Linked DNA regions of Homo sapiens: region 2 is linked to region 1. Evidence: fine-mapped expression QTL. Tissue or cell type: cerebellar hemisphere. Region 1 holds a variant in brackets; the other region holds the start of a gene. All regions are shown on one strand. Distances are from middle to middle.

Region 1 (8,101 bases):
TGAGGGTGAACCTCTCCTCCACCGTGGGCAGCCCAGGCCCTGCCTGGAGAACAAGCAGAGGGGGAGATTCTCCCTCAGGAGAGAGCGGAGGGGGAGATTGCCCCCAGGTTGCCATGGGGCTGGGATAGAAGATTCTGTGACCAGGAAATGGCCCAGCCTGCTGCTCCACCTGGCTGCAGCCACCCCTTTCTCCAAGACCAGACTTATGGGTCTGTCTCCCTGCTGCCTCCCTCTGCCGTTCTGCAGCTCTGGGGAGCTCTGTAACTGGGGGGCCCAATTCTGCCATTCTGCAGCTCTGCAACTGGGGGGCCTGGGTCGGTGGGGAGGTGGAAGTTGCCCCTGCAGAGAGTGTGTTCTCTTTTCGGGGAGACCTGGGCCTCCTGGTGCTGGAGGGGCTCCCAGCTGTGAGTAGGCAGGCCCCATGTAGCAAGGAGACAGCTCGCCATGTGGACTCCCTTGGGTTTGGTGATTGGTCACTGCCCACTGGCGTGCACTCAGTGCGTTCCTGGGCCCACCCAGGCTTCTTGATCTCTTGTGATGTTTGTAATCTGGCATTTGGGAGAGAGTGAGGTAAAGGCAATTTTGCAACTGCAATAAAACCAGCAAAGTGATCCTCTGATGGTTCTTAATGAGATCCGTCTATCTCCCCTGACTGAGCCGGCAGACTGCAACCCCATGTGTGAGGTCAAAATGAATGTCACATGGTCCCCCACAGAACCAGAGAAGCCATCACCATGGTGCCTGGCCTAATCTGCTCCAGCATCCGACAGGAGTGATCAGAAGATACTCACAGGAAATTGTTTTTCCTGCCTCGTAACCATAACAACAGATGAGAGCTGGTCTTGCTCAACTTTCCGAGTGAGCATCTTTGTCAACATGTAGCCAAACCCAGGACACAAAAGCAGAGACCAGGGCTGGCAAAAGGGCACTTTGGAGATATCAGGGTTTGGGGCTCCTGTGAGGTCTGGATTCTCCCCTCTCCTGCCCCACCCGACAGGGATGGCTTAGAACGTTCCTGAGTGTGGACTAGAAGGTGGGTGGAAGGACAATGGGCCCCCTGGAAGTGTGCATACCTGGCATCACAGTGAGCTGTGGCTGCTGCCTGGGCAGAAGCTGAGAGGCTGCCTTGCTGCCCAGAGTCCCCACAGGCCTGCAGGTGGGCACCAGTCCTTGCTTCCCAGATTACAGTCAAATGCTCTGCCCATATCATTCCCTAACTCTGACAGCACCAGGTCCAGATCTATCCCCTAAACTGCAACAGTATTGCTGAGAGAAATTAAAGAAGAGCTGAATGAATGGAGAAGTATACCAAGTTCATGGATGGGCAGACTCTCTATGGCTAGGATGTTGTTCAGCCACCCCAAAATGATCAGTAGACCGAATGTGATCTTCATAATAATTCCAATGAGCTTTTTGACGGAAATTGATTGATTGATTCTAAAATGCATTTGCAAGTGCAAAGACCTGGAAAAGAAACATGATCCTGGATAAAGAGCACCGTTGGACTAATACGATCTGATTTCAGGATGCTGCAAAGCCCAGTAATCAGGGCAGTGAGATACTGGCGAAGAAATAGACACTTAGATAATGGAAGAAAATGTAGAGACAAGAACTAGACCCATAAATACATTTCCCATCGATTTTTAGCAAAGGCTGCAAGGAAATTCAATAAAGAAAGAAAGTCTCTTTGACAAATGATGTTGGAGCAACTGGATACATTTATGGGGGAAATAAACCCCAACCCCTTCCTCACACCATACATGAAAATTAATTTAAGATAAACCACAGATCTAAATCTAAAATATGGACCAGGAAATACCTAGAACACACAGGAGAAAATCTGCAACATTGAGGTAAACAAAGACTCTTTAGAGAGGACACAAAAGGCTCTGGCCAATAAAGAAAAAACAACAAGCAGAAATTAATCAACATTTAAAATTTCAGGTCATCAAGACATTGTCAAAAAACAAAAAGGTATTTCATAAAATTAGGGAAAAAAATATATGTGTGTGTATATATATGTGTATATATACACACACATATATTTTCTCTAACTCTATTAATATATATGTATATATATATGCACACACATATACACATATATATACACACTCACACACACATACATCTTATATCCAGAATATATTGAGAGTTCTTACAAATCAACAATAAAAAGACAATCCACTTATCCAAAATATATAAAGAGTTCTTACAAATCAATAATAAAAAATCCAATTAAAAGATGCTTCATAAAAGAAGACACATAAATGCTGGATAAGCACATGAAAAGATGTGTAACATCATTAATCATCAGGAAATAGATACGAAAATCTCCAGGAAGTAGTTTTTTGCCCATCGGGTTGACAATACTAAATGTCAGTGTGGATATGCAGAAGCCGGAACTCGCCTATACTGCAGGTGAGGGTACAAAACGGTGCTGCCACTTAGAAAACTGCTTGGCAATCTCTTACATAATTAAACCTCCACCTGTCCTATGGCCCTCCTAGCTATTTATCCAAAGGAAATAGAAACATTTGTACCCCAAAAATACTTGCACAAGAATGTTTATAGCAACTGTATTTATAATAGTCAAAAACTGGAAACTACCCAAAGGTACACTGGCAGGAAAAAGCATAAATAGATTTTATATTTATAAAATGGAATACCCTTCAAAGATAAAATGGATAAACTACACAGATAAAGCTCAAAACAACTTGGTTGGGTGTTGGTTATGTGTGTGTATTTGTCAAAACTCATCAGGTTGTACCCTTAAGATCTGCACATTTCACTTTATGTAAAATTTATTTCATAAAAAGCAATTTCCCCAAAACAATATGATAATAGCACAAAAGGGCTGCCCTCTCCCCTCAGCCACGGCCAAGTGTGATGTTGCACTCAGACCCCACCCGAGCGTCCTGGCTTTGAGTCTCCTTCAGGATGCCCAGGTGTACACTTTGCTCGGAGCTCCGGAGCAGCAGACAGGGTTGCAGGGGTGGGGGGCTGCTGCCCTCCAGTGGTGCATGGCCCTAGCAGGTCCCCCCTCACCACACTACAAGCTCCCCACTGGAACCCTGGAGCCCGCATGCCTCCCAGAGGGCTCGTGCAGGGACCCCCAGGCAGCAGATACGGGCACCCCACGAGTGTGGCCACAGGAGGCTCCGTGAAGGGCAGCAGCCTGCAGCCATCACTCTGCCAGTCTCCCCGAGACACCCCAGTGCGCCCTGCAGTAGAGCTGGCTGGCCGGGCTGGGATCTGCAGACAGGTGGCAGCTCCACCTGGAAGGATAGAAAATGCAGTTGGGATTGCCACTTCTAGGTCTTGCCTGACTTCTGCCCTTTCCCAAACACAGGGCCTTGTGGTGCCTTCAGCTGGTCCCTCCTCCTGGAGTCCCCTCCCACCCATCCCAGCATCACCTGCAGCACTCTCCCGCCAAGGTCAGGCTCAGGCAGGGCCTCCCACCCCCATCCAGGAGGCTTGGCCAGGCCCATCCTCTAGGGAGCTGGGGACCTGGCCTTCCAAGAGCCACCAAGACATGTCTCAGAGGTAGATGGGGGCTGGGCAGTGAGCCGGAGCCTGCCCCCTCCCCTCCTGCCCCAGGGCCAGGGGCAGCAGCATGAAGCCTCCTGGTCTCCCTTCCATTCCCTGGCCAGGATGGAGACGCCCTCAGGGCTGGTGCAGGCCTCCAGCCCCCATGCCTAGTGGCCTGGGAGACAGCCAGCCCCACCAGATGAGGATGTGAGCCACACAGGCAATTTTCTCTAGAAATAAATGGAGAGAAATTGCTCTAACAGGCAAACGGCCTCTGTTTCAAAGCTAATTTCCACATAATAGAACCAAACTACTTCCCTTTCCTCTCCTCTGTCTCTTCTGCATAATTTGACAAATTGCAAAGCTATTTGATTCGGGGGCTCAAACACAAGCACTGACTCCAATAGTCAGGGACAGATGGGGAGAGGGGAGAAGGCAAAGCTCCCCAGAAAGCGCCCGCTGACTCCAGGGCTCTGAGAGGACATTTCTGGGACTGGCAGGTCAGAGTGCAGGGGTGGGGCAGTGGCCAGGGCTGGGCACCTCCGCATTCTGCCACCATCTCCCCAGGCGAGCAGAGGCCCGTCTGGGAAGGGCTGCCGTGGTAGCTGATGCACAATATGTCCCGCGGGGCTTGCCAGCGCGCTCCTGGCTCTGATCTGGTGCCTGGCAGGGCCAGCCCTGCTCCCAGCCAAGACCAAGGCCTGTGCTTGTGCTGCCGGCTTGGCCACGTGCTGAGACCGAGCCAGACCCAGCCAGGAGAAGCAGCTGGTACCTGAGCACCCCAGCCAGGCCACGGTGCCCGTCACCAGCGCCGCACAGCCCGCCCCATCTTCAGCTCCAGCCGCCGAGCTTGACAGCTCTGGCCCTGGAATCCCCACAGGCCCTGTGTGTGTCTCTCCTGCATCTCCTTCCCTGTCCATGTCCTCCCGGGAACTCAGAACCCCCCTCGCCACCCGGGGACCTGCACATCCCTACCACACACGCAGCCCACAGCCGGGCACGTGGTACGGTGCATCCTGTGTGCAGGGGACGCATGAAGAAATGCACGCAGCTGGGGCTGAGGACACGGAGGCCTCCAGGCAGGGGTCCGGGCCAGCCTCCCACCCACACCCCAGGCAGGTGGGCAAGTCACGGAGCACAGGGGACAGAGAGCAGTGGCATTTCCTAAAAGGACTTTCTATTATTTAACCTATTAAAAGATGTCTTTAGGCTGGGCATGGTGGTTCACTCCTGTAATCCCAGCACTTTGGGAGGCTGAGACAGGTGGATCACCTGAGGTCAGGAGTTCGAGACCAGCCTAGCCAACATGGCGAAACAGTGTCTCTACTAAAAATACAAAAATTAGCTGGGCATGGTGATGCGCGCCTGTAATCCCAGGTACTCAGGAGGCTGAGGCAGGAGAATCGTTTGAACCCGGGA[G/A]GCAGAGGTTGCAGTAAGCTGAGATCATACCACTGCACTCTAGCCTGGGCGACAGAGCAAGACTCCATCTCAAAAAAAAAAAAAAAAAAGAAAAAGAAAAAAGTATTTAAATGAGGATGTTATTTTTAACAATATTATTTTACAGCTATACAAATACTACACGAAAGCAGGCTTGATATTAAAAAGTGAGAGCCTCCTTCACCTGCACCCCAGTCCCCCATACTGTTCCTTCCCCGAGATTCTCCCCGCAGTGCACCTGTGAGCACCTTCCAGAGCTGTCCAGGTACCTGTAGGCAGGTCTGAGTATGCAGACATGTGGCTCGGGGCAGTCGCAGGAGGAATCCCACTCGCCTGTGATCCCCTGCCCTGCGTTTGTGCTTCTCATGTACTTCCACATAGAGAAACAAGGGTCACACATGGACCCTCAGCAAGACCATGGACAACAAGTGCAAGACCCAGGACAACCCAGCCCAGCAGATCCTGCCCGCCCACCAGCTGCCATGCAGTGCTCAGAGGCTGGAAGTTGAGGGTCACTCGTGCACCACCCCTACCTGCAAAGAGCACCCATCCAGGGGCACAGGGCACAGGAAGCTCCGGCCGAGAGGCGTGCAGATGGGAGATGCCCTGGGGAGTGGTGGGGAAACTCCTGCCACAGGGGGCCTTCAGGGGCCCTCGGAACCACAGAATCCTTTTGGAAGCCAAGGACATCAAGAGAGAAGGATCAAAAGAAACCGAAGCACAGGCTTGCGATGAGCCTGGGTGACATGGTGAGACCCTGTCTCTACAAAAAATACAAACATTAGTCAGACATGGTGGCACACGCCTGTAGTTCCAGCTACTTGGGTAGCTGAAGCTGGAGGATCACCTGAGCGCAGGAGGTCGAGGCTGCAGTGAGCTGTGATTGCACCACTGCACTCCAGCCTGGGCGACAGAGCAGGACCCTGTCTCAAAAAAGAAAAAGCACAGAAGCTGCAACAAGCCAGGCATGTCGGGTGTCCCCAAAGAATACCCCGCCAAGGGAATGGTGAGGTGAGGGAGGCAGCCACAGGCTGCTGAGGCTAAGCCTGACAGTGGGGCCTTAGATGAGAGGCTGGGGTGGTCGGGGCTCCCCCCGTGGTCAGCGCAGAGCCAGGCAGCGATGGGGAAGGAGAGCCGAGACAGGGAGCCTGGTAGGGTGGCTTCGGCATCGCCAGCCCCGCGACGACAAGGAGCCATGGGAGGGGACAATGCAGAGCCGTCCTGTGGGGGACGCAGACGTTGTGGAGGCTGGCACATGCTCGGAGCACACGCTGGTTGAAATAGCAGCCGAGAGACATAATTAAGAAGGTGAATCTGCTGCCAAAACATGCACCGTGCTTCAAAGTCAACAACGTGTGGTTTGGGGGACAGCCTGTTTCTGGGATAAGTTGGCCCCTGCAGGGCAGCTCACAGGGAGTGAGCATGGTGGGGACGCCTTCAGTCACTCTCTGGCATGGGCACCCCACACCCCGCCAGGGCAGGGAGGGAGGGGCAGCCGAGGGAAGCATGCGCCCAGCGCCACATCCTCCAAACCCTGGCTGCAGACACACGGGACAGGCTGAGCAGGAGCTATCGGGCTGGGCTACACCACGCACACCCAAGCACAAGCACTCCTCGGGCTCAAGAAAGGAGTGGAGGGTCGGAACGTTCTAGAAGGCCTCCCAAGGGAGAGGGGCTTGTGCAGATGGGGCACTCCAGGCCAGGAGCCCAGCCTATACAAAGGTGCGGAGGTGTCCTGTGCTGGGGAGTGGGACCAGGCCAGGCCGGGTGGCTGGGCCCGGGGATACAGAAGATCTGGGTCAGTCGGGGATCAAGGGGGCCAATGTTCAGGAGAAGGTGTTGATGGTGCAGCCCAGCTGCCCCTAGCTAAGCTGTTCCCTCAGGAGTTCACCAGAAGCCCATCGCGTCAGCAGCAGCCCCCTCGGGTTTGTTCAGCAGCATCCATGCAACCACATCAGCTCAGAGCGGGGATTTCAGACCCAAAGGGCCACCACCAGGGGGGATTTGTCCTGGGATCAGGGACCACCGCTCCTCAGCCTGGACCTTTCACATCGAGTGCCCAGAGAAGCAGGGGCTGGTGGGCACCTGAGGGTTCCCTGAGAGTCCTGCCCTCCAGTGGCTTAGAGATCAACCCCTGGCCCAAAGGTCCTGCTTGACAGGTGCCCCAGATTCTGTGAGTTACTTAAGATCAAGTAACAAAAAGATCACCCTCATGGCAGATGAGAGGTTAATTCAGTCACATCGTTACTGGTGACAGTCCCACAAATGATTTATTGATTTTTTTTTAAATAAAAATATGTCACATCCTCTGGTATGGGTATAGACCAATTCTGTGCTTGGGCCAACTGGATAAGAAGTTACTAGTTTGTACCAGATGCCAACTTGCTATTCCATGCCAAGCAGAAACAGCACTACCCATGATACAGCACTGCTACCTGGCACTTCCTCACGCACCACACACACACGCCCCTCCAGGAGTCCGCACAGCCTGCAGTGAGCACCTCCTCCGTGCCAGGCGCCCTGGCAGGGTTGCTGTGTACTGTGGGGGTTGCCAAGACCAATCAGACTTGGCACTGCCCTTGAGGAGCTCAGGCTGCAGAGGCGAGAATGGGAGGATAACTCAGCCCCATGTGCCGTCCTTGAATGGGTCTAATGGGGCCCACGGTCATTGCATGTGGCTGACGTGGCGTGACTAGGAGGCTGAGGAGGGTGTCCCCATGGAAGTGACGTTCCAACATGGACTGGAAGGATAAGTACAGCCCAGTCATGGGAAACAGACAGAGATGCTCAGCCTGGGCAGTGAGAAGGCAGGTGGGAAACTGAGGCAGGACAGAGTGTGGTGAGGTGGAAGATGGCAAGCAGGGCGTGGAGCCAAAAAGGATGAGGGTGGGGTGGTGCAGAGGAGTCCCCGGGGCCCCAGGGCTGGGCCACAAAGAGGCCTGTAGATCTTGCTAAGCCCCTGGAAGGTTCTGAGCAGAAGAGACTTCACCAAATGAATGCTTTAAGAATCTCCTTCTGGCCCGATGTCCATCGCGGATGAATGGATGAGCAAATCGTGGTCTAGCCACACAACAGAATATGTATTATTCAGCCATAAAATGAAATAAAATACTGATTCCTGCTACATGGCTGGAGC
Region 2 (8,097 bases), 590 kb before region 1:
TGTCACCCAGGCTGGAGTGCAGTGGCGGATCTCGGCTCATTGCAAGCTCCGCCTCCCGGGTTCACACCATTCTCCTGCCTCAGCCTCCCGAGTAGCTGGGACTACAGGTGCCCGCCACCACGCCTGGCTAATTTTTTGTATTTTTAGTAGAGACTTGGTTTCACTGTGTTAGTCAGGATGGTCTCGATCTCCTGACCTTGTGTTCTGCCCGCCTCGGCCTCCCAAAGTGCAGGGATTACAGGCGTGGGCCACCAGGCTCAACCCAGAGGTTTCTTTTTCTGTGAAACAGGGATACCTCCACCTGCCCCCAGAGGGCTGTCAATGCAATTCAAAGAGGAAACCAAGGCCGGGAGCGGTAGCTCACGCCTGTAATTCCAGCACTTTGGGGGTCCAAGGCAGGGAGATCAAGAGGTCAGGAGATCAAGACCATCCTGGCTAACACGGTGAAACCCCGTCTCTACTAAAAATACAAAAAATTAGCCGGGCGTGGTGGCGGGCGCCTGTAGTCCCAGCTACTCGGAAGGCCGAGGCAGGAGAATGGCGTGAACCCGGGAGGCGGAGCTTGCAGTGAGCCAAGATTGCACCACTGCACTCCAGCCTGGGTGACAGAGCGAGACTCCATCTCAAAAACAAAAACAAAGGAGAAACCTAAAGGACCCAGCCTAGTGCCTAGTGCCTGGTACGGAATAAAAATCCAGAGAATGGACTGGGCACGGTGGCTTACGCCTATAATCCCAGCATCTCGGGAGGCCAAGGTGGGCGGATCACTTAAGGTCAGTAGTTTGAGACCAGCCTGGCTAACATGGCGAAACCATCTCTACTAAAAATACAAAAACTAGCTGGGCATGGTGGTGGGCGCCTGTAATCCCAGCTACTCGGGAGGCTGAGGCAGGAGAATCGCTTGAACCCGGGAGGCGGAGCTTGCAGTGAGCCAAGATCGTGCCACTGCACTCCAGCCTGGGCAACAAGACACTCCCCCTTTATCTTAAAAAAAAAAAAAAAAAAAGAATTCAGTGACTGATCACAGCAGTAACAGAATTGATACAAATATCCAGTTCATGGCTATAATTAATACTAAGCCACTGGGACTCTAACAAGAAGGAAGGCTTAAAAAGACGCCCTCATTTAGGCCAGGTAGGGGCTTTGGACAGAACAAGGTAAGATGAGGGTCTATAAGGAAAAGGGCAAAGTAAACTGGGAGGGTACAATGACTACGGTAAGAAGGGACTAAAGAAACTGAGTCATGCTGACATTGTGCTCCGGGCCCAGGCACCCTGGTATGGTCTCCTTACAAAATTACCCTTAGTCCCCAGTGCAACAGGGGCCTGCTATTCAGTAGCTTGCAAATACCTTTCCCTTCCTTTCCCCTTGACTTCAGTTGCCATATTTGCCTGGACAAGTGACATGTTCCCAATACATAATAAAACGAGGGCCCCCCCTTTTTTTTTTTAGACAGAGTTTCAGTTGGTCATCAGGCTGGAGTGCAATGGTGCGATCGCGGCTCACTGCAACCTCCGCCTCCCGGGTGCAAGCGATTCTCCTGCCTCAGCCTCCCGAGTAGCTGGGACTACAAGAGGCCGCCACCACACCCAGCTAATTTTTGTATTTTTAGTAGAAACGGGGTTTCACCATGTTGGCCAGGATGGTCTCGGTCTCTTAACCTCGTGATCCGCCCGCCTCAGCCTCCCAAAGGGCTGGGATTACAGGCGTGAACCACCGCGTCCGGCCCCTACTTTTTTTTTTTTTTTGAGACAGTCTCGCTTTGTCACCCAGGCTGGAATGCAGTGACGCGATCTCGGCTCACTGCAACCTCCGCCTCCAGGGTTCAAGCGATTGTCCTGCCTCAGCCTCCTGAGTAGCTGGGAAGCTGGGACTACAGGCGCGTGCCACCACACTGGGCTAATTTTTTGTATTTTTGGTAAAGACGGGGTTTCACCGTGTTAGTCAGGATGGTCTCGATCTCTTGACCTCGTGATCCGCCCGCCTCGGCCTCCCAAAGTGCTGGGATTACAGGCGTGAGCCACCGCGCCCAGCTACATATTCCCAACACATAATAAAACGACAGCCCCTACTTTTTTTTTTTTTTTTTTTTTTAAGACGGAGTTTCACTCGGTCATCAGGCTGGAATGCAATGGCGCGATCTCGGCTCACTGCAACCTCCGCCTACCGAGTGCAAGCGATTCTCCTGCCTCAGCCTCCCGAGTAGCTGGGACTACAGGTGCCTGCCACCACACCCAGCTAATTTTTGTATTTTTAGTAGAGACGGCGTTTCACCATGTTGGTAAGGATGGTCTCGATCTCTTGACCTCGTGATCCGCCCGCCTCAGCCTCCCAAAGGGCTGGGATTACAGGCGTGAACCACCGCGCCCGGCCGGCCCCTTTCTTGAGTCCATTCTGCCCAGGCACATTTCCTAGCTGTGTGTGTCAGTTTTACAGCACCAGACCTTTTAAAAATCCATCTTATTCATAGGCCAAACGTGTGTCTACTGTATCCACTTAAGTCTGCAAAGTTTTGGCACATTACATTAAGGGCGAACTATTACCTGACACTGGAAATGGGAAATGTCTGACCCGCGAGTTCCATACAATTTCATTCAGCACCGTATGATCTCTTTTCAGCTTCCCTGTTGCCTCACCCAAGTTGTCATGTACAGCATAACGTGGAGGGCAGTGTGGCGCAAGGAAACTTGAGTTATAAAGGAGAGAAGGGACTGGATGTGGAGTCAGAGTTCTTGGCTTGGACTCTGGCTTCTCTAACTCTGCGTAGCCTCTGGGTTAGGCAGCTGAACCTCTCAAGGCCAAGGTACGCTCCCTGTCAAAACCGTGGGAGAATTCAGGTGCACTGAGCGCGTTAAGGCCAAGGAGGGAAACGCGGCGCAGGCCTAGGCGATGCTTCCCTCTGGCAACCGACCCTGGCCTACCTCCCTTCAGAGAAGGGAAAGCCGGGCAGAAAAGCAGGCGCGTGCCGGCGGAGGGGTGGAACCCCAAGATCAGCTGGGGCCAAGGCGGCTTCTCGCCCTCCCGCCCCCGCCGTCTCGCACCTCGGGAGCCAGGTCCAGGTCCCCGTACTCACCTTGGCGCAGGACAGACGGCTCAGAACGCACCACAAATCTGCAGCCAACTCGGAAAGGTCACCGAGCGCGCAGGCGCGCGCAGGGGATGCCGGGAAGGCGGAAGCAGCAGAGACGCCGCAAGGCCAGAGTGCCTCCCCAGCGGCGCCTCCGCACCACAGCGCCCCCGGCGGCCGCCTGGTGTCGCAGGCAAGAAGGGGCGGGGAGAGGGTGCGTTAGGGGTGTGCCCGCGTGTGTCACTGTGGGCTGGCTAATCCTCCACATCTTCCCACGACTGATGGGTTTCCTGGGACGCGGGACCTTCAACGCTGAAACTAGGAAAGTTCTAGACATACCGGGAGGGTTGGTTAACCTAAGAAAAGGGACCCTCTTTACTGTGACGTTAAAGACTAAGTCAAGTCTCCCATTTCAGTGGTGTGTCTTGTCCCTTTCTATTGTTAATTATTTAGCTCTGCATGTATAAAATATATATATTTGGAGACGGAGTCTCACTCTGTCGCCCACGCTGCAGTGCAGTGGCGCGATCTCGGCTCACTGCAACCTCCGCCTCCCGGGTTCAAGCGGTTCTCGTGCCTCAGCTTCCTGAATAGCTGGGATTACAGGCGCTGGTCACCAAGCCCAGCTAGTTTTTGTATTTTTAGCAAAGACGGGGTTTCACCATGTTGGCCAGGCTGGTCTTGAACTCCTGACCTCAGGTGATCCACCTGCCTCAGCCTCCCAAAGTGCTGGGATTACAGGCTTGAGCCACCGCGCCCGGCCTGCTCTGCATATTTTTATGTCTGTATTCTGTGCATATTCTTCTCAGCAGATAATATAAAACTTCCACAGGGGCTCCAGACACTGGGCTTAATAGTCTTAAAAATATATATATATATATATATTTTTTTTTTCAGAAATATTTTCCAGTAGAGAACTAGAAATCATAAAAGAAAAAAATTTAGCGAGCGGATCACCTGAGGTCAGGAGTTCAAGACCAGCCTGGCCGACATGGCGAAACCCCATCTCTACTAAAAATACAAAAATTAGCCGGGCTTGGTGGTGGGCGCCTGTAATCCCAACTGCTCAGGAAGCTGGGGCAGGAGAATCACTTGAACCCGGAGGGCAGGGGTTGCAGTGAGCCGAGATCTTTGCACTCCAGCCTGGGCGACAAGAGTGAAACGCCATCTCAAAAAAAAAAAAAAAAAAAAAAAAGCCAAATAAAAATTGGATGGAGGCTGGGCGCAGTGGCTCAGCACTTTGGGAGGCCTGTAATCTGTAATCTTAGCACTTTGGGAGGCCAAAGCAGGCAAACTGCTTGAGTTCAGGAGTTTGAGACCAGCCTGGCTAACATGGTGAAACCCCTTCTCTACTAAAAATACAAAAATTAGCTGGGTGTGGTGGTGGTGCGCACCTGTAATTCCAGGTACTTGGGAGGCTGAGGCAGGAGAATCGCTTGAACCCTGGAGGTGGAGGCTGCAGTGAGCTGAGATGGCGCCACTGTATTCCAGCTTGGGCGACAGAGCGAGACTCTGTCTCAAACAAACAAAACAAAAAATTGGATGGATTTGGCAGATTAGACAGTTAAAGAATAAACTGCAAGATCGAAGAAGCCATTCAGAAAATAAGAGGGATACAGCAGGAAAGATACCAATCATATGGGTAATTGGTATCTTAGAAGGAAATTAAAGAGGTGAGGCAGAAATATCTGAAGAGCTAATGGCTGAGAATTTTCCAAAAGTGATGAGAAAAAAATCATGCCAAAGATTCAAAAAGCCTTACAGAGGCCAGGCGCGGTGGCTTACGCCTGTAATCCCAGCACTTTAGGAGGCCAAGGCGGGCGGATCACCACACCATCCTGGCTAACACGGTGAAACCCCGTCTCTACCAAAAATACAAAAAAATTAGCTGGGTGTGGTGGTGGGTGCCTGTAGTCCCAGCTACTCCGGAGGCTGAGTGAGAGAATGGCGTGAGCCCGGGAGGCGGAGCTTGCAGTGAGCAGAGATGGCGCCACTGCACTCCAGCCAGGGAAACAGAGCAAGACTCCGTCTCAAAAACAAAAACAAAAAACAAAAAACAAACAAAAAGCCTTACAGAAACCAAGCAGGCAGATAAATAAAAATAAATCAATACCTTGAAATCTCACAATAAAGCCATAGAAAAGATAAAGATAAAATCTCAAAGAAAGTAACCACCAATCAAGAATTCTATACACAGGGAATTCTATACACAGGGAAATTGGCATTCAGAAAAGAAGGTAAAATAAAGACAGTTAAGGACAAACTAAGAGGAAATCGTGCTAGGCATGGTGGCTCATGCTTGTAATCCCAGCACTTTGGGAGGACTGCTTGAGCCCAGAATTTTGAGACCAGCCTGGCCAATGTATTAAGATCCCATCTTTAAAGGAAAAAAAAAAAGAGGAAATTATTAGGTTTTGAAGGGAAGGCAAGGGTTAAAGACAGACAAGACAGACACACACACACAGAGGGAGGGGGGGAGGGGAGAGGGGAGAGAGATGGTGGCTTCAACAGCAACACAGGTTTATTGCCAGCAAAAACCCGTGGAGCGGATAACCAGTTTAGTGCCCGAGCTCACTGCCGCTTCCAGGCTGGGGTAATTATAGGTCTGGGCTGGATGGGTCTGGGCAGTATGGCTTGCTGCCTGGCAGGATGTGATAAGGATGTTCCCGCAGTCAGGCAGTTGGGCAGGATGTTTCTTATGGTCAGAGCCCCCATGGAATGTTTCACTCCGACCAGGGTCTGTGAAATGGTGGGGGGTTTATAAAATGGTGCAGCTAGGACTGAAATAATCACAAGCAGATCCACAGTAAAATAAATGTTCATTATTCAGGCACAAGGAAAACGAGCTCAGATGTGTCAAGATAAAATAATAAAAGGCTCAAGATCCAGTTAAAATCATTTTTTTTCTTTTTTGAGATGGAGTCTTGCTGTGTCGCCCAGGCTGGAGTGCAGTGGTGCGATCTTTGAAAATGTAAAAGTGTTATTCCTCTCACACACACACACACACACACACACACACACAATGTTTTTTGGAAAACATAGTGACGTTTTAGAAAAATACACTGTTTAACATCAAACGGGTTTATCATTTTAAAATAAATAAGTAAAAACATTTCTCAGTTGTAATCCCTGATAGACATAACCCACATAAACAAAATCTCTTTAGGGTCCTCAGCAACTTTTAAGAGTGTAAAGGGGTTCTGAGACAGAACCAGGTTTGAGAACCACTGTCCTATAGTAAAAATGTTTTAGAGTTTTAGATTTATAATGACTTATAACACTGCTGAGGACGAGAACAAGCATTTAGGAAAAACTTAAGGAAGAACATCATGGAGAGCTGCTTCAAGACAGAGCTTCTGAACTTCCAACTAGACTTGAGATCAATAGACTTTGCTATGTTGCCCAGGCTGGTCTTGAACTGCTGGCCTCAAGTGATCCTCCCACCTTGACCTCTCAAAGTGTCAGAATTACAGGCGTGAGCCACTGTGCTCAGACCAAGAGAGTTTTAATGTCTTTAGTTTCAAATCCAAAACACCCTAAGAAACGCACATCTTAAAAAAAAAAAACAACCAAATGTTTCTTTTTTTTTTTTTTTTTTTTTTGAGATAGAGTCTTGCTCTGTCGCCCAGGCTGGAGCACAGTGGCGTGATCTTGGCTCACTGCAAGCTCTGCCTCCCGGGTTCACGCCATTCTCCTGCCTCAGCCTCCCAAGTAGCTGGGACTACAGGCGCCCGCCACCACGCCAGGCTAATTTTTTGTATTTTTAGTAGAGATGGTTTTTCACCGAGTTAGCCAGGATGGTGTCGATCTCCTGACCTCGTGATCCGCCCGCCTTAGCCCCCCAAAGTGCTGGGATTACCGGTGTGAGCCACTGCGCCCGGCCAAAAAAACCTAAATGTTTAAGGAAAGGGCCACTCCAGCAGATTTATTCAAAGTGCAGAATGTTGCATCTTGTGGTAGGAAGGCTGGAGAAGACAGCAAGCTACTTCGAGCACAGCTTCCTCTGCTTTGAGGAGAGTGCTGCTGAATGGCACCAACACCATTTGTAACTGCTCTCAGCTGTTAGTTTCCCCTTTTTGGTGGACGCTCAAATGCTCAGTGAATGCAAATATGCAAAACCTTCCCAAAATACCATGGCTCACTAGGGGTTCAGTGGCCTTCCCATGTGTTCTGGCCTAGATGTGACAAGTCCATGAAGATCTATCTGATGTCAAGCTGTTTCTTGTTTCTTTTTTCTTTTTTGAGACAGAGTCTTGCTCTGCCGCCCAGGCTGGAGTGCAGTGGTGCGATCTTGGCTCACTGCAACCTGCACCTCCTGGGTTCGAGCGATTCTCCTGCCTCAGCCTCCCGAGTAGCTGGGATTACAGGTGCGCGCCACTACACCCAGCTAATTTTTGTATTTTTAGTAGAGATGGGGTTTCATCATGTTGGTCAGGCTGGTCTTGAACTCCTGACCTCACGATCTGCCCACCTCAGCCTCCCAAAGTGCTGGGATTACAGTCGTGAGCCACCGCGCCCAGCCCAAGCTGTTTCTTTTAACTCTGAACTTTGGACAGCAATGCAAGGTGAACTTGACCAAGTGAGTTGGGAGCACCGAGAACTACTGAATCAAATGAAAGGTGCTCAAAGCCATTCAGTCTGTGATGATTCAGAATGTTAACTAGTGTTTGGTCAGGAAACACTATGGCAACTTTCCAAATTGGCAAATTTCCAAAGAAGCATCAAGAGAGTATCTTTGGATTGCAATTAAAAAAAAAATCAAAACTCAGAAGGATTAGCTAGTAGCCCAAAAGATCAAAGAATATAGAAAATGCCCCCCAGAAAATGTTTTTGAAAAGCATCTTCCACTTAAAATCGTATTCATTGTGACATCAACAAAGGATGACAGCACACGGTAACAGCAACATCCTAGAAAAACAGGCCAGGCGCGGTGGCTCACGCCTATGATCCCAGCATTTTGGGAGGCCGAGGCGGGCGGATCATGAGGTCAGGAGATTGAGACCTTCCTAGCCAACATGGTGAAACCCCGT

The links. PIP is the estimated chance that this variant, and not a neighbour inherited with it, causes the effect.
Region 2: it holds the start of ATP5MJ, and the variant in region 1 is fine-mapped to the expression of ATP5MJ in cerebellar hemisphere (GTEx, PIP 0.96).

Annotation. Positions count from the first base shown.
Region 1 is chr14:104,506,839-104,514,939 of GRCh38, forward strand. No RefSeq gene overlaps it. Among named protein-coding and RNA genes, the nearest start is that of C14orf180, 69 kb to the right of the region's middle. The variant G/A (reference allele first, on the strand shown) is at 4,948.
Region 2 is chr14:103,918,397-103,926,493 of GRCh38, forward strand. It overlaps ATP5MJ (ATP synthase membrane subunit j), which reads right to left and starts at 3,133. Exons shown (of 4, transcript NM_004894.3): 1 at 3,074-3,133. RefSeq lists an enhancer at 2,788-3,463 and silencers at 3,098-3,270, 3,157-3,326.